2 linked regions of the Homo sapiens genome follow. The protein of the gene in region 2 purifies or fractionates together with the protein of the main gene of each other region. This does not show direct contact. Each region holds a gene or a part of one and is shown on either strand. Other genes may lie near its edges.

Evidence for each region.
Region 1: the proteins of LRRTM2 (region 2) and TMEM38B purify together in Homo sapiens (affinity purification with mass spectrometry; 3 studies listed by BioGRID and IntAct, with this or other methods). This does not show direct contact.

The regions. Positions count from the first base shown.
Region 1 is NC_000009.12:105,766,187-105,776,389, reverse strand, and holds part of TMEM38B (trimeric intracellular cation channel type B), read right to left. Parts: intron 2,526-10,203; coding exon 2,310-2,525; 3' UTR 1-2,309. UniProt on the Homo sapiens protein: Intracellular monovalent cation channel required for maintenance of rapid intracellular calcium release. Acts as a potassium counter-ion channel that functions in synchronization with calcium release from intracellular stores.
Region 2 is NC_000005.10:138,872,336-138,883,505, reverse strand, and holds the start of LRRTM2 (leucine-rich repeat transmembrane neuronal protein 2 precursor), read left to right. Parts: upstream 1-8,170; 5' UTR 8,171-8,594; coding exon 8,595-8,598; intron 8,599-8,949; coding exon 8,950-10,496; 3' UTR 10,497-11,170. UniProt on the Homo sapiens protein: Involved in the development and maintenance of excitatory synapses in the vertebrate nervous system. Regulates surface expression of AMPA receptors and instructs the development of functional glutamate release sites.

The sequences.
Region 1 (10,203 bases), on a different chromosome or scaffold from region 2:
ACCATTTCCACTGAAAGCCAACAACTCCACATATCTGGTCTCTCTCCAGCCCTTACTTGATACTCCCTCAGTAAGGAAGAGTGACTAATCTGATAAACCAGTTTGATATTCATTTGGCCATGTTTTACTTGAGAGTGACAGCACTGAGGGAAGCTGGCTCATGTTCTTGCCAGCTTTTTGTCTCCTTTTTTTTTTTAAGGAGACCTATTAGGACTTGACTTTCTCAGTGCCACCTCTGATTAGCTGTGTGAGGCAGGCCTATAGGCCTTATTCACACTTCACATTGGGTAAGGAGTCTAACAATCTGCTTTGCAAATCCAAGTCAAGACTCTACAGGTGACCTGAATAGATTCAGGATGGGTTTCAGGCCTAAGCCATGTTCTCCAGTACATTTTTTACAAAAGAGCCTTGAATTGAGGGTTATAGGATACTTGCATAGATTAATAAAGTTTCTACCAATGTCCCATTTGAACAGTAATCACTGAATATATACTATATTAGTCAAAATACTAGATGAGTTCTGAAACTCTACCTCAAGAAAAATATAAAACATAAAAATAATGTAATACTCCATTGGTGCTAAATAACTTATTTTAATAAATTTATCTTTAATACAAGTGTAAAACAAGAGTCCTTCCATTTCAACTACAGTTAAACCCAAACTTCAAAACTGGTCAATAATTAACAATGTATTAATTTTGAAAAGTTTTTAACTGTAAGAGTATCAAATATAATACAGAGCTCTTAAATACTTAAAGCTTTCTGTCACAATATTAAAAATAAAACTTCTTAGCATTCCAAGACTATGAAAAGTGCCCCCTCCCAATTTTTTAAGCAAGTAATAGTATCTGCTGGTGTTTATATTTGTTAAAAATTTAAAATAACAACAACAAAAAAAAAACTTCTAACTTGAATGTGATGTGACTTGAGTACTTCTAAACCATCGAAAATACCTGATACGGGGAGTAGGTTCATGGTTTTGGTAAAAGAAACTATGTCACAGAGTTTTAATATTATAACTGGACTTCTAAATCATAAAGTAAGAAAATTAACATCATTTAGTATCTTTTCTTGTTTGTTTTTTATTTTGCTAAGAAGGAACCAGATTTTATATCATCATTCTTCATCTAAATGGACTGCCATATGAAGTTCTGGTTTCTCTGTTTCTTCTTGGTTAGCTGGTTACTACCAAATGCCTAAGGACAATTCTCAGAGCATTTCCACATGAAGGTGATTAGTTTTCATTTAATAAAATTAATAACACATTACATGTAGATGAAAATATAACAAAACCATACGAAAGCTTGTCAGAGATATTCAACTAGAAAACTAAAACAGTAGCCACTAGAAAAAAGACATAGTGGAAAAATTTTTGAACGGATATGCTTTTTGTTGAATAATTACAGTAATTACTACCAATATATTCAGACCAACAAAGATTAGAAAGAACATGCAAAATGCTGAGAAAATTTCTCCTACAATTAAAACAAATGTGTTTTTATGAGAGAGAAAAAAATAAGTCAAGCTCCTAAAATGAAAATTACAAAACATAGGATTAACAATTTATTAAAAATTACACCCTTGATTTTTTTGAGGCCAAAAAAAGTAGTTTTTTTAAAACAAGGGCATGAAAAAGACTTCAGATTAAGACTCATACTCTGTTCTAAATGAAAAGTAGTAAAACTACTTCTAGTAGAAAATACCTGCTATGGAAAAAAAATTTCAGATATTTTCCATTTGATGTAGGTATTAATAAAAAATATGATGTTTATATCTAAAATATAAACTAGCAATTTATTTTCATTTATAATATAAAGTGTTTTAGGAAAAGTTTACTCTTCTCAGTGTTCAAAATAAAATAGGAATTGTTCTCCATACCTAGCAATTTTAATGATAATGTCAAGTAAAAATTTAATTCTGCTGAACTAAAGCTCAAATAGATTCAAATTTTAAAAATATGAAAAATCTACATTTTTAAAAGCTTAAAATTTTTGTTACTTTGCAATGACAGATCTGCTTTTTCTAACATTTAAAAAATTTTGTCTTCTTTTATTAATATAAAACTATTCAAATAATCACAACAGAATCTCTTATACCGGTAAAGCATAATCACATGATACACTCGTAACACTCTACAAATACAATCCAGAAAGGGGAAGTCTCCCTCAAACAAAGAATTTCTTTCTTTCTGTCACCTCCATTCCATATATATAGTCTTCATTTCACATCACATACATAGAAAAATTAGCACAATATAACAGGTAGATAAGAAAAAAAATTTTTGGCCTTGTAGAGCTCATCACGTAAATTTATTCATTCTTCTTAGTATGTTTCTTTTTAACATTATCTGAGGCAACATCTACCGGCTTTGAGGCCAATGACCCAACGCCATTGGAAGGTGACTTTGCTTCACTTTTCTTCTCACATGATGAAAACGGCTGCTGCCAGCCAAATAGCATCCAACTCAATGTATCCTCAAAAGGAGCAAATGTCATAGTAGAAGTCTGTGTAGTCATCATGGTTATCTGGGGGAAAAAAGTTTAATTTTGAATTTAAATACAAATGATTTCTGTTTCTCAAGAGAGAGAAACAAAAGGAAAAAAAATCAAAATGCATTATTAATGTAATCTGCAGGGGAAGCAATCTAAGCTAGATTCTGGTAAAATCTCTGTTCTCCATGAGATTCTACTTAATGGAAAATAACACAACTCATTAAAAATAATACAAGGTACCATATTTTGGGGTGCCAAATGAGTAGAATAACCACTTTCACAAAAATGCATTTAGTATTCAAAGGAAGTAAGATAAAATATCAACATCACTATGCATTTAACATGTGTCAGAACGAAGATAAGTGCTTTACATTGTCGTTCTCTTTAACTTTAACCCAACAACTATTCTATTATTACCCTCATCATTGAGATGTGGAACCAAGGCTCTGAGAGGTTAAATAACTTGCCCAAAATCACAAAGCTAATAAGTGGTAAAGAAGTTTGCAATATCCAGATTCTGAGTTCGATTACTAAATACACTGACTATCATCATCTAAAGTCACAGACTTTTAGTGACTTGCAGAATGCTACCCTCAACAGATTGTAGAATGTCCCCCAATTTTTTCCACATATATTTTTATATAAAGGAACCAAGACCTCAAGGGGTAGAGAGTGCTCCTATTCCTTTATGTGGCAAAATGCACAGTGTTCACAGATGTTTAGATATACTCAAGAAATTAGGCTAATGCCAAAATAAATCTGGGAGGAGAACTTTCAAGTCTAGAACAGCTCCAAAGAATCCAGGAATTTCCCCAAGAGTCAGTTCCTCCAGAACACAGATAATGACTTAAACTAGAAATTCTGGGGATCAAATTTTCAAAGAAGACCCCTACATAACCTACCTGCTTGGGGAAAATGGTATCAAGAATAAATTCTTACTAGTTGCAATACAGTGTGGGGAGGTGGAAGAAAAGTATATATTCATCACAAAAGGAATAGATAAGTTAAATGCATGCTATGCAATATTTAGAATAGAAAAGAAAAAGTGAAAAATTCTTAGAACATACTGTTAGGTGAAAATGAGACACAAAACAAGAGCCATAGTGTACTATCATTTATATAAATTAAAAACACATCCACACACAACATTGTGAGAGTACTAAACGTCACTGAAATGTGTATTTTAAAACAGCTAATTTTATGTGAATTTGAACTCAATTTTTAAAAAAAAAATTTTTTTAAATACATGCCCATGGACTTCAGGCCAGTCATGATTAAATAGCTTATATCAGGACTCAGTCTCTCACCAAAATCAACAAAAGACAGAAGTACATAAAGTAACTGCTAAAAGACACTGGGAAACAACTGAAATAGGCAGAACCTGATGGGGCTACTATTCAAGAGAAAAAAAGCTGAATAAAGTGAGTTCCACATTTACCCTTGCTTTTTCTTGTGAAGATATGTACCTAAATTCACAGCACAGGGGAATAGAAAGCAGAAGTCCAGGGGGGATAAGGAGCCATAGGTTGGAATGTGAGAAGGCCAAAGCTGTAAGGACCTGAGGTCAATACAGCCCAAAGAGGAGGATGTCGCATGGAAGTGAGCCCTAAAATCCTCGTGCAATTTGCCCTGGGGGAATTTACCAATCCCTAAACTCTGCATACATAAGAAGGATGAGAATCCAAAAGCCTAGCAGACAGCAATAGCTGAGAGGCCAAAGAGCTGAGCAGATACTTTAGCAGCCAGCTGCCTGGTACTGGGAAGATAAGTTGGAATTCAAGGTCAGACAAGGTGAAACTGCCCAGGGATGTACTTCAGGCTTAAAGTAAGACCCCAAAAGGGTTACACTGTAGAAGGGCAAACTGAAGTACAATACAGCACTAAGTCTAAAACTAACAATATGATTAAAATATTCTGCTTGTGCATTAACTGTCTTCCAGAAGATGTTGAATGTAATCCCTGCCCTCAAGGAGCTTACAGACTAGCCAGAGACAGGCAAGTAAATCAGTAATTACCAAACAGTAAAGAAGAGAAAGGGCAGTAATAGAGATTTCCCAGGAACATTTAAATAATAGATATAGATCTGGAAGTCATTTATCATACAAGCGAAAGGTAAATGCATAAATGAGTGTACACACCTGGAGAGAATGTAAAACGAGGAGTCCAAATATAACATTAACCTCCAAGTTTATGCCATTATTGGATAAGATCTAAGGACTTTTTTATATTAAATTATTCCTTAGAATAAATAGTTACAATGAGATACACTAGCATAATTACCTTGGTCATAGCTTGACTTAAGGAACTGCAAATAAAAGATAATAGAATTCCAATCAAAAACAATGGTCTACTGTCAGGAAAACAGCAACGTCTTTTTTACAAAATCCAAAAGAGAAGAGTGTCAGGGTTTAAAATATTTTCTGAGAACATGAACTATAATAAGTATTTTTCAAACTCAAGTGTTTTAATAGAATCTCCACTCCCAAAAGACTCATCACTCAGTTGAGAAGTATTGCTGGCATCAGAAATTACAGCTGAGATAGACACATGAAGTTCAAGGACAAAATTTTGTGAATTCAGCCTCTTATCAGACCTTGATTTAACAAGGTGACAAATGTACTTGTGACAAATAGAATAAATCCTTATTCTTTTACAAATAAAATATAAAACTGTCTCCTTATTTAGCAAACTATTAAAAGAAAAAGTATATTACCTAAATTAAATAGTATTTGGCTTCATAGTCTCTTACTTAAAAAGGAGATGAAACAAAAGAAAATAGAAGCCCTAAAAATATTTTGGCATTTTTAACATATCCCAAAATATAAATTAATTCAGGTAAAGAAATTTGTTTAAAGCTCTGCCACATTCTTTATATCTCAAGTTACACCATTTCAAAATGTCCAGTAAAATGTGACACACAATATGGCACTTATACCTACTTTGATATTCTCTATAGTGCCTAGCACTGAGAATACACTGAATGAATAAATATAACATCTACTTCATAGCAATAATTCAAAGCATACTGAAATATATCTATAAAAGAAAAATTTGCACAATTAATCTCTCTCTTCATCCAGAACATACTTCTTCCTGTCTCCACCTGCCCAAATTCAAATAATCCTTTTCAGTGTAACTCGTGTCTATTCCAATAGGCCCTTATCAGTATCTTCCAATGAAAGTCACCTGGCCCTAAAATGAATCCCTAACGGCACATGGCATATTCAAGTAGGTTTTCTGATCACTCTATGCTTTCTCCATAGATTATGTTATTCCCTCAGACTTCGCTAATTATTAACATGAATGATTCAAATAAATTAAAATCATAGGGTTTACATTTTTACAAATGTAAAAAAAAACCTAGGTGAATGAACTGTTCATTTCTGGTATATATCTTTAAGTGTGGAATAATATTCAATGCATCAATGAATAAAATGTATACATTATACCTTATTCAATGTATATCTTTAAGTGTGGAATAATTAAATAAACCTGTGAAAGAGCATTTTGATCATTTATTAGTCAGTCAACAAATATATATTAAAAATCAACTATATACACTAGACTCAATGCTAAGGATGCAGTGATGAATACTGCAAACTTAGTACCTCTCCTCATAAAGTTTAAAAGTCAAGTTAGCATATCTCCTGCTCCTTTTTAGACAATAATGTCTTAAGAATAGGATTTGGGTCTTATTCAATGTTTATATAATCATTCATATCCCCAAAAGCACCTAAGAACAGTGTCCCTCATTCATGTGTTCAATAATACATCTTATTCAATACATCAATGAATAAAATGTATACATTACACCTTATTCAATGTATATATGATTATTTGGATCCCCAAAAGGGCCTAAGAACAGTGTCCCTCATTCATGTATTAAACAATACATTACCTGAAGACACTTCTCATCAGTATTCAGCACATCTACGCTCTTTAAAACTATCTCCTCCTCCTTAAAACTCTCATCAACCACCCCTTTTCCATTTCCCATTCTAGATTTCCCTTCTCTAAATATTAGAGAACTTTATGGCTCTGTCCTCACTCCTGTCTCATTCCATGCTTTTCTTCCTATAACTGCCTCCCTAAATTAGCTTATAAATTGCAATAAACAATAAACACAATTGCAATAAAAATATCAACATGGTTTTTTACAGAGCTAGACAAACTATTAAAGTTCATATCAATATACAAGAATAGCTAAAAATATATTGAAAAAACACAAACACAGAAGAAATCCAGAAAACACTGAAAAAGAACATTTGCAGGAGTGCCTGATTCTCCACAGCCTCATCAACAGAATGTGTAGCCAGACTTGTAAATTTTTCGTTTGCGGGAAGGTTGCTTGAGTCCAAGTTTGAGACCAGCCTGGGCAACATAGTGAAACCAAAATTGTACAAAAAATACAAAAATTAGCCAGGCATGGTGGCACACACCTGTAGTCCCAACTACTCAGGAGGCTGAGGTGGGAAGATCACTTGAGCCTGGGAAGTCAAGGCTGCAGTGAGCCGTGATCATGCCACTGCACTCCAGCCTGAGTGACAGAGCGAGACCCTGTCTCAAAACTAAAATAAAATACAAATTTAAAATTTTGTGCCAGTTTTGATGAATGAGAAATGGTATCTCAGTGTTATTTTAATTAATGTTTCTCAAGTATGAGTTCCACATTTTTTAATATGTTTGAGGAACATTTCCTGATCTTTTCTGTGTGAATTGTCTGTTGATAACTTTCCTTTAACTTTTCCATCAGGTTTTGGTCCTTTATCCCTTAATTTTTAAGAGGTTGTTATATATCAGGCATACCAGCCCTCTGATATATGTTGTAAGTATTTTATCACAGCTATTTGATAGCTATATTTTGACTTTGTCCACAGTGGCTTTTGCCATGCAACTTTAAAAAACAATTTATGGAGTCAAATTTATCAATATTTTCTTTATAGTAAAGGAAGAACCAAGTAAACCCCAAAGTAAACAGAAGGAAGGATATAAAAAAGACCTGAAATTAATGAAATCTAAAACAGAAAAACCAATGAAACCAAAAGCTGGGTCTTTGAAACAAATCCATGAAACTGACAAACCTCTAGGTAGAGTGATTTTAAAAGACAGAAAAAGAAAACACAGATCACCAATATCAGGAATGAAAGTGGAGACATTACCACAAATTCTACAGACATTAAAGGGATAACAAAAAACTATTATCAACAATTTCATGCCAACAATAAAAAACTTAAGTGAAATGGCAAATTCCGTAATAAATACAACTTAGTAAAACAGACACAAGTAAAATAGAAAATCTGCATAGCCCTATATCTATGTAAGAAATTGTTATCAAAAACCTTCCTTTAAAGAAAATTCTAGGCCCAAATGACTTCATTAGTGAATCTATCAAACATTTACCAATAAATAATATCAAACCTACATAAACTCAGAGATTAGAGAAATTATTTTCCATTTATTTAATGAGCCCAATTTTATGTTAATACAAAAAGGAGAAAAAAATTACAGAGAAAACTACAAACCAATATCCATTAGCACACTGGAAAAAAATCCTTGAAAATATTTTAAAAAATGGATTCAGTAATATGCAAAAAGGATACCGCATCATGACTAAATGGGGTTTATCACAGGAATGAAAGATTTATGTAACATTTTAATAATCAATCAATGTAATCCACTATATTAACAGAATATAAGAGAAAACCCCTATGATTATTTTAAATGATACAGAAGAAAGCATTTGACAAAATCCCACACCCATTCATGATAAACACTTTCAGCAAACTAGAAATAAAAGAGAACTTCCTTAACCTCATAAAGGATATCTATAAGATGCTTAATAGCTAATATCTTATTTAAGTTAAAAGGCTGAATGTTTTCCCACTAAGGTCACAAACAAAACAAAGATGTCTACTCTCACCATTTCTCTTCAACATTGTACAGGACATTCTAGCCAATATAATAAGGCAAGGAAAAAAACAGCATCCGGGTTGAAAAGGAAAAAGTAAAACTATCTTTATCATAGACAAAACCATGTATATAGACAATGCTAAAGAATCTACACAAAAGCTACCAGAACCAACAGGCAATTTAGCAAGGTCACAGGATACAAGAACAATGTGTAAGATTATTCTTACAAGCAATGTACATAGAAGCAATGTAAAATTCCAAATTGAAATTTGAAAAACTACTATTTCTAAAGGCATCCAAAAATATGAACTACTTCAGGATAAATTTAAATTTAACAAGATACATATAAAACAATGAAGACCACAAAATAGTACTCCAAAAATTTAAAGGCCTAAATAACTGGAGAAACATACCATGTTCAGAGATCAACAGACTAAATCTTTTTAAGATCTGATTTCTTCCCAAATTAATCTATAGATGCAATCTCAAAAACAATTCCAGAAGGCGTTTTTTCCATAGGAAGTGACAACTTTATCATAAAACTTATTTAGAAATATAAAAGATGTAGACTATCCTAAGAAATATTGAGAAAATAAAGTTGGAGAAACTGTACTACTTGATTTTAAGACTTACTATAAAGTTATGGTAATTAAGACAGTTTAGTATTGGCTAGAAATAGACATATAAATCAATAGAACAGAATATAGTCTAGAAATAGACCCACATAGGTCAAGCCAACTGATTTTCAACAAAGGTGGCAAGATCATTCAATGAGGGAAAGAACTGTCTTTTCAACAAACAGTGTTGTAACAACTTCCTACTCATATGGAGGAAAAAAAAAAAACCTGACCCTTACCTTGTAGGACTCATAAAACTTAATTTGAAATGGTTCACAGACTCTAAAAGTAAAAAGGATGAGTTCATGTCCTTTGTAGGGACATAGATGAAGCTGGAAACCATCATTCTGAGCAAACGATCGCAAGGACAGAAAACTAAACACCGCATGTTCTCACTCATAGGTGGGAATTGAACAATGAGAACAATTGGACACAGGGTGGGGAACACCACACACCGGGGCCTGTCGTGGGGTGGGGGGAGGGGGGAGGGATAGCACTAAGAGATATACCTAATGTAAATGACTAGTTAATGGGTGCAGCACACCAACATGGCACATGTATACATATGTAACAAACCTGTATATTGTGCACATGTATCCCAGAACTTAAAGTATAATAATAAAAAAAAACAGAAAAAAAAGCAAAAATTATAAAACTTTTAGAAGAAACAGGTGAAAACTCTTCAAAACCTTGAGGAATAAAATAGTTTCTTAATAGGACACAAAAAGAAGGGCCATGAAAGGAAAATCTAGTAAAGTAAACTTCATCAAAATTTAAAACTTCAGCTCTTCTAAAGACAACACTAAACAAAGAAAAAGGAAGAGCATAAACTGGGAGAAAATTATTTGCAATACATATATCTCACCAAGGATTGACATCCTGAATATACAGAGAACTGTTACAACTCAATAATAATACAATTTTTAATGGACAAAATATTTAAACAGACACTATTCAAAAGATCACATGTGAGTGGCCAGTAAACACACGAAAAGACGCTCAAATCTCTAGCCATCACAGAAATGCAAAAGAAAACTATAATGCGATATCACTTCATACCTACAAAACGCTAAAATTAAAATGACTGATAATACCAAATAATTAACAAGGATCTAGGACAATCAGAACTCTCATACATTGCTAGTGGGAATGTAAAATGATACAACCATTTTGAAAAATAGTGT
Region 2 (11,170 bases):
AGATGCAATGCAACCCACACCATGAATCTGTTAATTCTGTCTTTGTCAAACTACCCAAAAAATCAATTTGTCTTTCTTGTTATTGCAGGAAATAGAGGTTTATGCCTCATTAATCAGAAGGGGAGCAGTTTAGGAGCAGTTATTTACTAAGCCCTTTAAGTTATACTAGACAGACCATTTTAAAATCACAGTATCATTTTAGAAAAATACAGTCCAAATAGCAAGTTTAGGGTACCAATCATTTAAAATGTAATAGAGATGAGTACACATAGACACACTCACAACCTTAACACTGAGCTTGAGGAAAGTATAAAGCTTGCTCATTTTAAAACAAGATTCTGCCAGGCGCGGTGGCTCATGCCTGTAATCCTAGCACTTTGGGAGGCTGAGGCGGGTGGACAGCCTGAGATCAGGAGTTTGAGACCTTTAGCCTCAAAGCTGAAACCTTTGGTTTCAGCCTGACCAATATGGTGAAATCCTGTCTCTACTAAAATTACAAAATTACAAAAATTAGCCAGGCGTGGTGGCATGTGCCTGTAATCCCAGCTACTCGGGAGGCTGAGACAGGAGAATCCCTTGAACCCGGGAGGCAGAGGTTGCAGTGAACCGAGATTGTGCCATTGCACTCCAGCCTGGGTGACAAAGCGAGACTCCGTCTCAAAAAACAAACAAACAAACAAAAACAAGATTCTACTTCTTTTGAGATTAAAGTTATGATTTTTTATTTCTAGCATTAACTGAACAAAAATTACGTTACTCAAACATAACCTTAGGAAAAGCAACCCTGTAGCGTATAACTATTACTGGAAGTAGTGAGGAAACTTTTTACTCCAACCCTTGCCAGTTTGGAAGGGATGAAATATGTTCCTGGCATTGCTGGTGGCATCTCAAGGCACATTTTAGTCCCTAAATGAAAAGGCAAAGGTTTCCAGGTGAACCTACAAAAAAGCTACTCAACCTGACTGCACGAAACAAATATCATCCCACCATACTTCTTAGATAAAAAGTGCCCTACATTGAAAGATCCACATAACCTCTTCCGCTAAACAAAGGCTTTCTTTTCTCCTTCTTCTACACATTCTCCCTATGGAACCTGGTCATTCCTACTGCTTTAATGAACCTATGGTCACTCTGCCATCTTCCATGCTGACCCACCCACATACATTTTTGTTCTTCAGACATGCCGTGCTCTCTCTCACCTACATAAAATACTCTTCTCCCCTCCTTCCAACTCCTACCCATCGTTCAGATGAGAAACTACTTCCTTGTGGAAGCTTCTGCTAGCCAACCTCAGCCCTAAGTTCAAGTTCAGTGTCCCCACAGAATGCTACCACACCATCTCATGTTTCCTCTCAAAGACCTTCTCAAATCATACCTTAGGATAACTACCTGTTGACTTGTCTGTCTCCCATTGGACATGAATGAAATGAGAAACCAATAACCAATTAGAGACACATTTAAAAGATATAGGACTTCATGTGTAATCTGTGTGGCAAGTCATCAGTCTCTGCTTCCTTGTCACTAGTTAGAATATAAGACTTCAAATAAACCTCTGCTTTCTATCCTCATTTTAATCTAGAGTAAGCCTGAGGTGGGTAGAGGAGGGTGAAATACAGTGTTTTAACCCTTAACATTTAAGGACTGTTTAAAAAGGTAACAAACAGGAGGTCTGATTAGTTTAACAGGAAGATCTAGTTAGATAAAATACCTCCTCAGCCATTAGAAAATTCAACAACAACAACAAACAATGAATTATGGCATTTTACAAGACCAAATAAGAATCAGCATTGAAGCTTCTTCTACCCAAGACAATAAAAAAGAGAACTGGGGCTGTCATCCATACAGTAGGGACCTTCAATAAAGCAAGAGATGAAGATCTTGAGAAAGGAAGTGATAACCAAGCTGTTGCTCACAACCAAGAAGGTTTCTGAGAGGAAAGAGAACTTTAAAGAGAATTATCAAGAAAAATGTTTGAAAACTAAGGGAAACTAGCAGCTTTTAGGGAGTCAATACATGTCTTCATGAGTAGGGCTAAAAAGCTTGCTGTGGGCTGGGCAACACAGTGTCATACAACATATATTTAATGAATAACAGGAGAAGCAATTTGACCTTGGTTGTTCTACCTGGCCCACAAATGGCTGGTGGGCTCTGCCTAAGCTGAACATGTAACAAGAGTTGCTGGGAGTGCTTTAAGCAAAGCTCAACAGTAGATCAATCTTAGAATACAATGATTATATAGTCCTGTATTCCCAAATTCTTTTCAAAGAATGCCCTCTTCTTAAATTACAAAGAGCAGAACAGACACTGCAGACATACACAGACAAACGCAACAAGCATCAAGACGAGCTCTCAAGGAGGACAGTCTTACCTCACTGCTCTCTCCAGCCTCAGGAAGCCCCTTTCAGCAATGTGCAATACAAGGAGGAATCAACATCTCAACTGCAGACGGAATGCTGACATGCTGCTATAAACCGTACAGAGTAAGAAATGATCTTGTTCTCTTTGGGCCAAATTTTTATGAATTTTCTTTGCATTAACAACATCACATATTCAATGTGTTTTTTTTTTTCCTTGCCATATCACTTGTCACTGCCCCTCCAGCCCAGAACCTATTAAGAGGGTTCTCAGATGATGGTTTCCAAGCTTCATCAACCTTAAGTGCTAGCATATAGCCAACAAACATGCAAACTAACCCCTTAAATTTAGACAACTGGGTCAGAGAGTCCACTAAAATTGAACGATTCTTCAAGTAAGTATGAACGGGTATCTTACCTCTTAATTCTATCCTGTGCAAACAGCTTTCTTTGTATAGCCCCTTGGGCCATCTATGTAGGTAAGAGGAAATAACATCTACATCAAAAGCTACTCAGAAATGTAGAGAGGAGAAAGGAAGGACAACCCCAAACTTGGCTATGTATTTCAGAATAAAAGATGAAGCATGCTACACAGAGGGGAAAGGGAAAACATGAACACAATGAAGCCACTAGCAGAAGAAGAGTTTTAAAAGGGGCGGCGGGGAGGTTGCCATAAACATTTCAGCCTGTGCTTTAATCAATACTTCAAGATGGTCTGGGCATGGTGGCTTATGCCTGTAATCCCAACGATTAGGGAGGCTGAGGTGGGAGGACAGCTTGAGCCCAGGAGTTCAAGACCAGCCTAGCGCAACATGATGAAACCCCGTCTCCACAAAAAATTAGCCAGGCATGGTGGTACGCACCTGTAGTCCCAGCTATCTGGGAGGCTAAGGAGGGAGATCAATGGAGCCTGGGAGGTTACGCCACTGCACTCCAACCTGGGCAACACAGTGAGACCTTGTCTCAAAAACAAACGAACAAACACAAAAACTTCAAGATAGAGTCTGTTATTTTTGTTTTGATGTCTATAATAGGAGAAATAAAACATCTTAATAGTATAAACGTTCATCTGTCCAAACTTCTATGGAAGACCTTCCATAACCTAATGCCCAACTTAGACGCATTGCTCCAAGATTTCTTGCTGAACTATCTAGCCCTGGGCACAAAATACAAGGGAAGCAGGTTGTCACATGATTCTGACCCTGAAACTTCCCCAACAGCAACAACTGCCGGAGTGCACATGTATCCAAAACTAGAAGGATATGTCCCAAAATGTGTAAGGTGCATCCAAAGAAACACTGCTTACCATTGTTAGTGTAATCAGAATCCCCTTCTACTGCTTTCTCAGTTGTGTTTACTAACAAGATAACAAAAGGACTTTAAAAATCAAAATCAGCTGGCATGGTGGTTGACACCTGTAATCCCAGAAACTTTGGGAGGCCAAGGTGAGAGGATCTCTTGAAGCCAAGAGTTCGAGACCAGCCTAGGCAACATAGTGAGACCCTGTCTCCACGAAAAAAATTTTTTTAATTAGCTGGGTATGGTGGCATGTGCTTGTAGTCCTAGCTACTCTGGAGGATCACTTGAACCAGGAGTTCAAGGTTACAGTGAGCTATGATCGTGCCTCTGCACTCCAGCCTGGGTGAAAGAGTGAAGACACTGTCTTTTTAAAAAAAAACAAAAAAAACACAACAACAAAATAAAATCAACAGAAGGAAGGGATGGAGACAAGGATCCAGGCAGAAATGGAGATTCTGGTAGTCTAATGTAGACACTCTACTATTGAAAGATTCCCTTCTCTTTCAAAAAAAGACAAGCTAGTAAAACCCACTTACTCTAATACAAGTCTGGCTACGACATAAGCCTAAGTATGTGGTTGCCAGTTAACACCTTAAAAGGTTCTTGGCAGAGGACATAAGACACACAACATCTAGGACCTCCACCCTAAAAATGGCTTTTTTTTTTTTTTTTTTTTTTTTTAAAGACGGAGTCTCACTCTGTCACCCAGGCTGCCACCTGGTTCAAGCGATTCTCCTGCCTCCGCTTCCTGAGTAGCTAGGATTACAGGCTCCTGTCACCGTGCCCAGCTGATTTTTGTATGTTCGGTAGAGACGGGATTTCACCACCTTGGCCAGGCTGGTCTTGAACTCCTGACCTCGTGCTCCACCCACTTCAGCCTCCTAAAGTGCTGGGATTACAGGCTACCACTGTGCCTGGCCAGCTATCATTTTTTTAAAAGCAGGGATTGAGACTGCCAGCAACAAGGTTTATTTTAACATGCTCCTCCAAAACACCTCTGGGCAACACTTTGGTGCCAGGGCATACACAATTTTTGGAGCTGGGTATGATGAAAGAAACATTTGCCTTTTTAGCATAAAGCAAATATAAAGCTCCCTCTCTACCCTCCCTCCCACAGAAGAACAGGAAATTTCATGAATATATCTGTACATTTGCTTCTCCAAGTAGGGGAATAACTCTCCCTAATCAGCAATACATATGAAAAGCAAACTCTCATGTGGAGGAATGCAGACAACTACAGCCATCTAAGCCCTGCCACTTGACTCAGTTAATTTGCTTAAAACCATTTACAGAGAGGAGACAGGTTAGATTTTACTTCTCCTTTGCCTTATCATGAACATCTAAAGCAATGAAAATTGAAACAGATCATATGGACAGTACCTTCCAGAAGTAGTATTGCCACTTTAAGTCAAAGTCATATGTTTGCGGAAAAAAGCTGCTCTACAGCAAAACCAAGAGAAAGTTTAGAAAAATAGATATGTAGCCCTTTTAGCTAAAGAAAGATAAAGACCAAAAAATGATACACAATTCCATCAATGGGAACTCTGCACTCTACCAATTTTAAGGCAAACTCCATGTCTTCTTTGGTTCCACAGCCTGAACCTCTTGAACCCAAAGAGTGGGCAGGTGAGAAAGATGGCTGGTGACCTGGAAGGGGCTGTGCTCTCTGGGCACCATGATACTGCAAGCATTAGTGCCCACTTCCTCAGAGGCCTTCAAAAAATAATTACTCTTGATTGCACTGATGCTTCTCTGGGCAATTTTCCTTGCCCACAAATCTGTTATAATAGTACTGAGATAATATAATTTAAGTAGTCTCCATTTATTAGTATTTAAGAGGTAGGCCAAGCAGACTAAAAACCAAGAGTTTAAGGGCACGGAGATGCTTTTCCTTCTGCATGTTAACACACAACTCATTCCTAATCATGGTGGCTCTAATCCAACTGACTAAAATGCTTTTCTCCCCAAGGAACTAACGTAGTTACTTGAGAGAAGAGTTTAATCCAGCTTCTCCTGCGTGGCAAAGGGTTTTTTTCATCAGAGGGTAGCTGACTTCAATAAGGGCATTTACAACATCCCAAGGGCTTATTTTCATTTAAGAAATTTGGCCGGGCGCGGTGGCTCACGCCTGTAATCCCAGCACTTTGGGAGGCCGAGGCGGGTGGATCATGAGGTCAGGTGATCGAGACCATCCTGGCTAACAAGGTGAAACCCCGTCTCTACTAAAAATACAAAAAATTAGCCGGGCGTGGTGGCGGGCGCCTGTAGTCCCAGCTACTCAGGAGGCTGAGGCAGGAGAATGGCGTGAACCCGGGAAGCGGAGCTTGCAGTGAGCCGAGATTGCGCCACTGCAGTCCGCAGTCCGGCCTGGGCGACAGAGCGAGACTCCGTCTCAAAAAAAAAAAAAAAAAGAAATTTAAGAGACCACTCCTATGAGACTACTGTCCTTAGAACTTTTGGGGGCAAGTTCCTGTAGAACAGCAGCTCTGAAACCTAGGGTGAGAGACCCTGTAGGAATCGGACTCAACCTTATCCACAGAAAAATGAACAAGCAAAAAAATTTCACAAGACAGTTTATGGAACCAGGTTAAGAAGTTCTAGCCTATTGAGAGAGACTATAGGAAGGATTAAGGTCAGAGGGGGAGTAGCATTCCCCGGGTCTAAACCAGGACTTGTTTCCTTCCCTTCTTTAACCAGCAAGAAGGAACAAAGAGGACGTACTAGTGCAGGCTCATTACTAAGGACTCAAGAGTCTGTTCACTGGCAACTTTGGCTTGGGAATTTCCATTCAGCCTACAAAATGTGTCTAAGAACCACAATGCCAATCTCATCTTCTTTGCTTCCTCTGTCCCTTCACAGGTGTCAGACCTGCCCTGTGGTACGAAGACTCTCAGAGCATTCCTGCTGCCTTCTGTCTCCCTTTGTACTTCGTAGGCATTTTTGCCTCTTGTACTTCTAATTCTACCTTGGGATCACTTCTAGGAGGACTCAAACCACACACCTGCACTGCTGCAGTTTTCATAGCACCTTTACACAGAGCCCTAAGGAAGGGACCTTGGAGTCTCACAGCTCTCACTCCAGCACAACACTACAACAGAAAAATTTTACCCAAGACAATTACTTCTTAGATCTGCCCAGTGGGATGAATCCCTCAGAACCAAAAAGGCCAACGATGTTCTTGTTTCACAGACACCATCAGTAGTTTTAAAGATGTCTGTCCTTAGGTCTGAGACAAGACCCACAAAGGGTAAGTGCCAATGATATGGGAGAAATAGGTATGTTGGGTCAAATCAATAAGGCAAGATGTAGAAAAGGGCTTACCTTTGTCAGGCCTGAAAATATAACATCTAGAAACATCTTTTGCATTTATATAACACTAAACATGGAGCTATACATCCACAACTGAGGTCTGAAAAGTGAAGACACCATTCAACAGGGAGAAACTGGAGTTAGGGCAAGCAAAATCAAGTCAAAACAAAAATCCCAGTCCAAAGCATGAGTGACCTTTTGTATTCACAAGACAGGTTCTAACAACAGCAGTAGGCTCAGTTAAGTCAGCCACTTGGTGGCTGGGAACTAGGGTGCAAATGCTCTATTATTTCAGTGTCACAACCACCAACCTCAGTACCAGCGGAGGCTTTTAGTTATGGAGTAGGTGAGATTCTGAGGTAAAATACAAGGGGCCATGTCAGAATCCAGCTACACGGTATCACTTGTCCTAAATCATCTCTGCTTTGCTGTTAGGGCATGTGCATTAAAATGACTGTATCAACCTGCCTTGTCCTCCCAGGAGGACATTTAAAGATCAACTCAGCATTATTTTTTCAATCAGTATGGCGACAAAACATTGTTATAAAATAGGAGAAAGAGAAATCTTTTTAGAGTTCCCCTGAAATTCTCAAAGAAAAAAATAACCACATGCTTTGTTTTGCAAGCTTCCCCTCCCCCTTTATTCTTCGTTTATAATGTTAAGCTCTTGATGACAAACAAGCCAAGCCCACTTAGCTAGTTTATCAACACATCTAAAGCAAATCATAGTCATACTTTGATTTTAACCAAGCATGACAACAAGGCAACTGAATAGCTTTCCAAACTACCAGTGCAGCGACACTACCTTGCATAGGCTGGTGTTAAATCAGCACTTCATAAATTGTGCAGGCTTCTGCCCATTTAGATGATCTCTCTATGCAGAATCGGCAGTCTAACACTGGCTCTCACAAGCATTAAAAATCATCACTCTGCTAACCCAACTCACTGTTCAGATGGGTCTTCTTGAATGCAGCCTTTATTACAACCTCACTGCTGCTTCCTACACTGAAGGAATATCATGTTTTTAAGTCAGGAGTTCTTCTTTCTCGCTTTATTGTAATCAGGGGGTCCTGCAACGACCCCGATGCTGTTACAAAGCATGGTGCTTTATAACAGTAAAGCTTCTGGAAAACCCAAACAAAAGACACGTCATCCGGTGACGTCAGCCTATATACAGTTCTGTGTGGTCGCAGCACATAAGCAAATCCATTCTTGTGCCGTTTCTCGGAAAAGCTTTTCAGTAAATGCACTCATGCTGCTCCAGGAGCTCTTCTCTGCAACAAGCCACCCATCTGCCATCAACAAGTTAAGACCAAGAGAACTAACGGCTGCGGAAAGGAGACTGAAGCTTTGATTAACCAGCTGAGCAGTTAGAGGTGGAGAAATTTAATAACTTATATTCAAAACTGATTTAGGGATCAGAGCAATCACAGAAAATGAAACCAATGCTTTCCAGAGGGATATCCTAAGGAAAAAACAACTCGTCCTGGTGGATTCAATTTTACTTGGAAAGCCTGGGACACAGAAAACAGGAAACTGGTCAAAGGCTCCTACATGTTAGAGCCTTTTACAGACTCACTGCGTTGAGTCTAACAACCGCGACTGAATGCAGCCTCCAATGTGCTCAGAAGAATGGGTAAGTCTGTGCATTTATATGTCTTGTACATTCAACAAGGAATCACGCTTTTAAAATAAGCTACCGAATTCACATTTTATGAGGGAAATCACCATCATATTTTGGATTTTGAGGTTTAGGTAAAAGCATATATCGATGATGACAGAGACATGTTTTATCTTCTTTTTAAATGGCTTAAGTTTTGGTCCAGTCATACCAATAAGGTTAATTTTTCTGCAGTAAATGAAAAATAAGTTATATGCAGTGAAATCTTTTGCTATAATGTTGGTGGTGGTTGTTTTTTTTAAATAGCCCATATGTTCTGCTGAAAAATATCCTATCTTCTTGTTTTCCTTAAATTATATTCTGCAGGCTTACATTTCAAGTGGCCATTAGGGGCCCCTATGCTGGCAGCAATATATGCAATGAGTATGGTTTTAAAAATGCTGCCTGCCCTGGGTATGGCGTGTCCACCCAAATGCCGCTGCGAGAAGCTGCTCTTCTACTGCGACTCTCAGGGCTTCCACTCAGTGCCAAACGCCACAGACAAGGGCTCTCTGGGCCTGTCCCTGAGGCACAATCACATCACAGAGCTCGAAAGAGATCAATTTGCCAGCTTCAGTCAACTTACTTGGCTCCACTTAGATCACAATCAAATTTCAACAGTAAAAGAAGATGCTTTTCAAGGACTATATAAACTTAAGGAATTAATCTTAAGTTCCAACAAAATATTTTACTTGCCAAACACAACTTTTACCCAACTGATTAACCTGCAAAATTTGGACCTGTCTTTTAATCAGCTGTCATCTCTGCACCCAGAGCTCTTCTATGGCCTTCGGAAGCTGCAGACCTTGCATTTACGTTCCAACTCCCTGCGGACTATCCCAGTACGCCTGTTCTGGGACTGTCGTAGTCTGGAGTTTCTGGATTTGAGCACAAATCGTTTGCGAAGTTTGGCTCGCAATGGATTTGCAGGATTAATTAAACTGAGAGAGCTTCACCTAGAGCACAACCAGCTGACGAAGATTAATTTTGCTCATTTCCTACGGCTAAGCAGTCTGCACACGCTCTTCTTACAATGGAACAAAATCAGCAACTTGACATGTGGGATGGAGTGGACCTGGGGCACTTTAGAAAAGCTAGACCTGACTGGAAATGAAATCAAAGCCATCGACTTGACAGTGTTTGAAACGATGCCCAATCTTAAAATACTCCTCATGGATAACAACAAGTTAAACAGCCTTGATTCCAAGATCTTAAACTCCCTGAGATCCCTCACAACCGTTGGTCTCTCTGGCAATCTGTGGGAATGCAGCGCCCGAATATGTGCTCTGGCCTCCTGGCTGGGCAGTTTCCAAGGTCGGTGGGAACACTCCATCCTATGCCACAGTCCTGACCACACCCAAGGAGAGGATATTCTAGATGCAGTCCATGGATTTCAGCTCTGCTGGAATTTGTCAACCACTGTCACTGTCATGGCTACAACTTATAGAGATCCAACCACTGAATATACAAAAAGAATAAGCTCATCAAGTTACCATGTGGGAGACAAAGAAATCCCAACTACTGCAGGCATAGCAGTTACTACCGAGGAACACTTTCCTGAACCAGACAATGCCATCTTCACTCAGCGGGTAATTACGGGAACAATGGCTTTATTGTTTTCTTTCTTTTTTATTATTTTTATAGTGTTCATCTCCAGGAAGTGCTGCCCTCCCACTTTAAGAAGAATTAGGCAGTGCTCAATGGTTCAGAACCACAGGCAGCTCCGATCCCAAACACGACTCCATATGTCAAACATGTCAGACCAAGGACCGTATAATGAATATGAACCCACCCATGAAGGACCCTTCATCATCATTAATGGTTATGGACAGTGCAAGTGTCAGCAGCTGCCATACAAAGAATGTGAAGTATAATATCTACCCATCATCAAAAATCACATCAGATAAGTAACCTATTTTACATAGTAGAGGCTAAATACATATCTAATTTTTACCAATGGTGACATTAAGCCTAATTTTCCAAACTAAGTGGAGACTTAGTTTTTGAAGTGTTGAAGTATTTTTAATTTTTTAAATGAAACCATATTTTAAGTGTTAAATGAATCAATGCTCACATTAATTTGCACTCCTGTTGGAAAGTCTAAAATGCTTACTTCAAAATAAGAAATGTATGTAATTATATACAATCGTGTGTAAACCTTTACACTAAGGTCTCCATATACTATTTTTTTCTACTGAAAACAATTTAGAAAGAAGCTATTGGGCAGAAACAGATATAGATCAATACCTGTTTGATCACTGCTCTCCATCCCATGTACCACAACTATCTTGCTGCTTAAAAGGAGACTTAGTAAAGTTCTCTTGTATGATAATTTGGTATTTACTCAAATCTTCAATTTCTTGCCAGGGTGGGAAGTAGAATTTCATGTATGCTGAAGACTGGTAAATATTAAACATTCTCCTTCCAGAGTTTCTGCCTGGGTTAGTAGATATTATCAAAGTCCATATCATGAATTCAGAACCCTTTAATGTAATTCTAATAAGCTGAGTGACTCTTTAATATATTTACACAATGAATCCAAGTGACT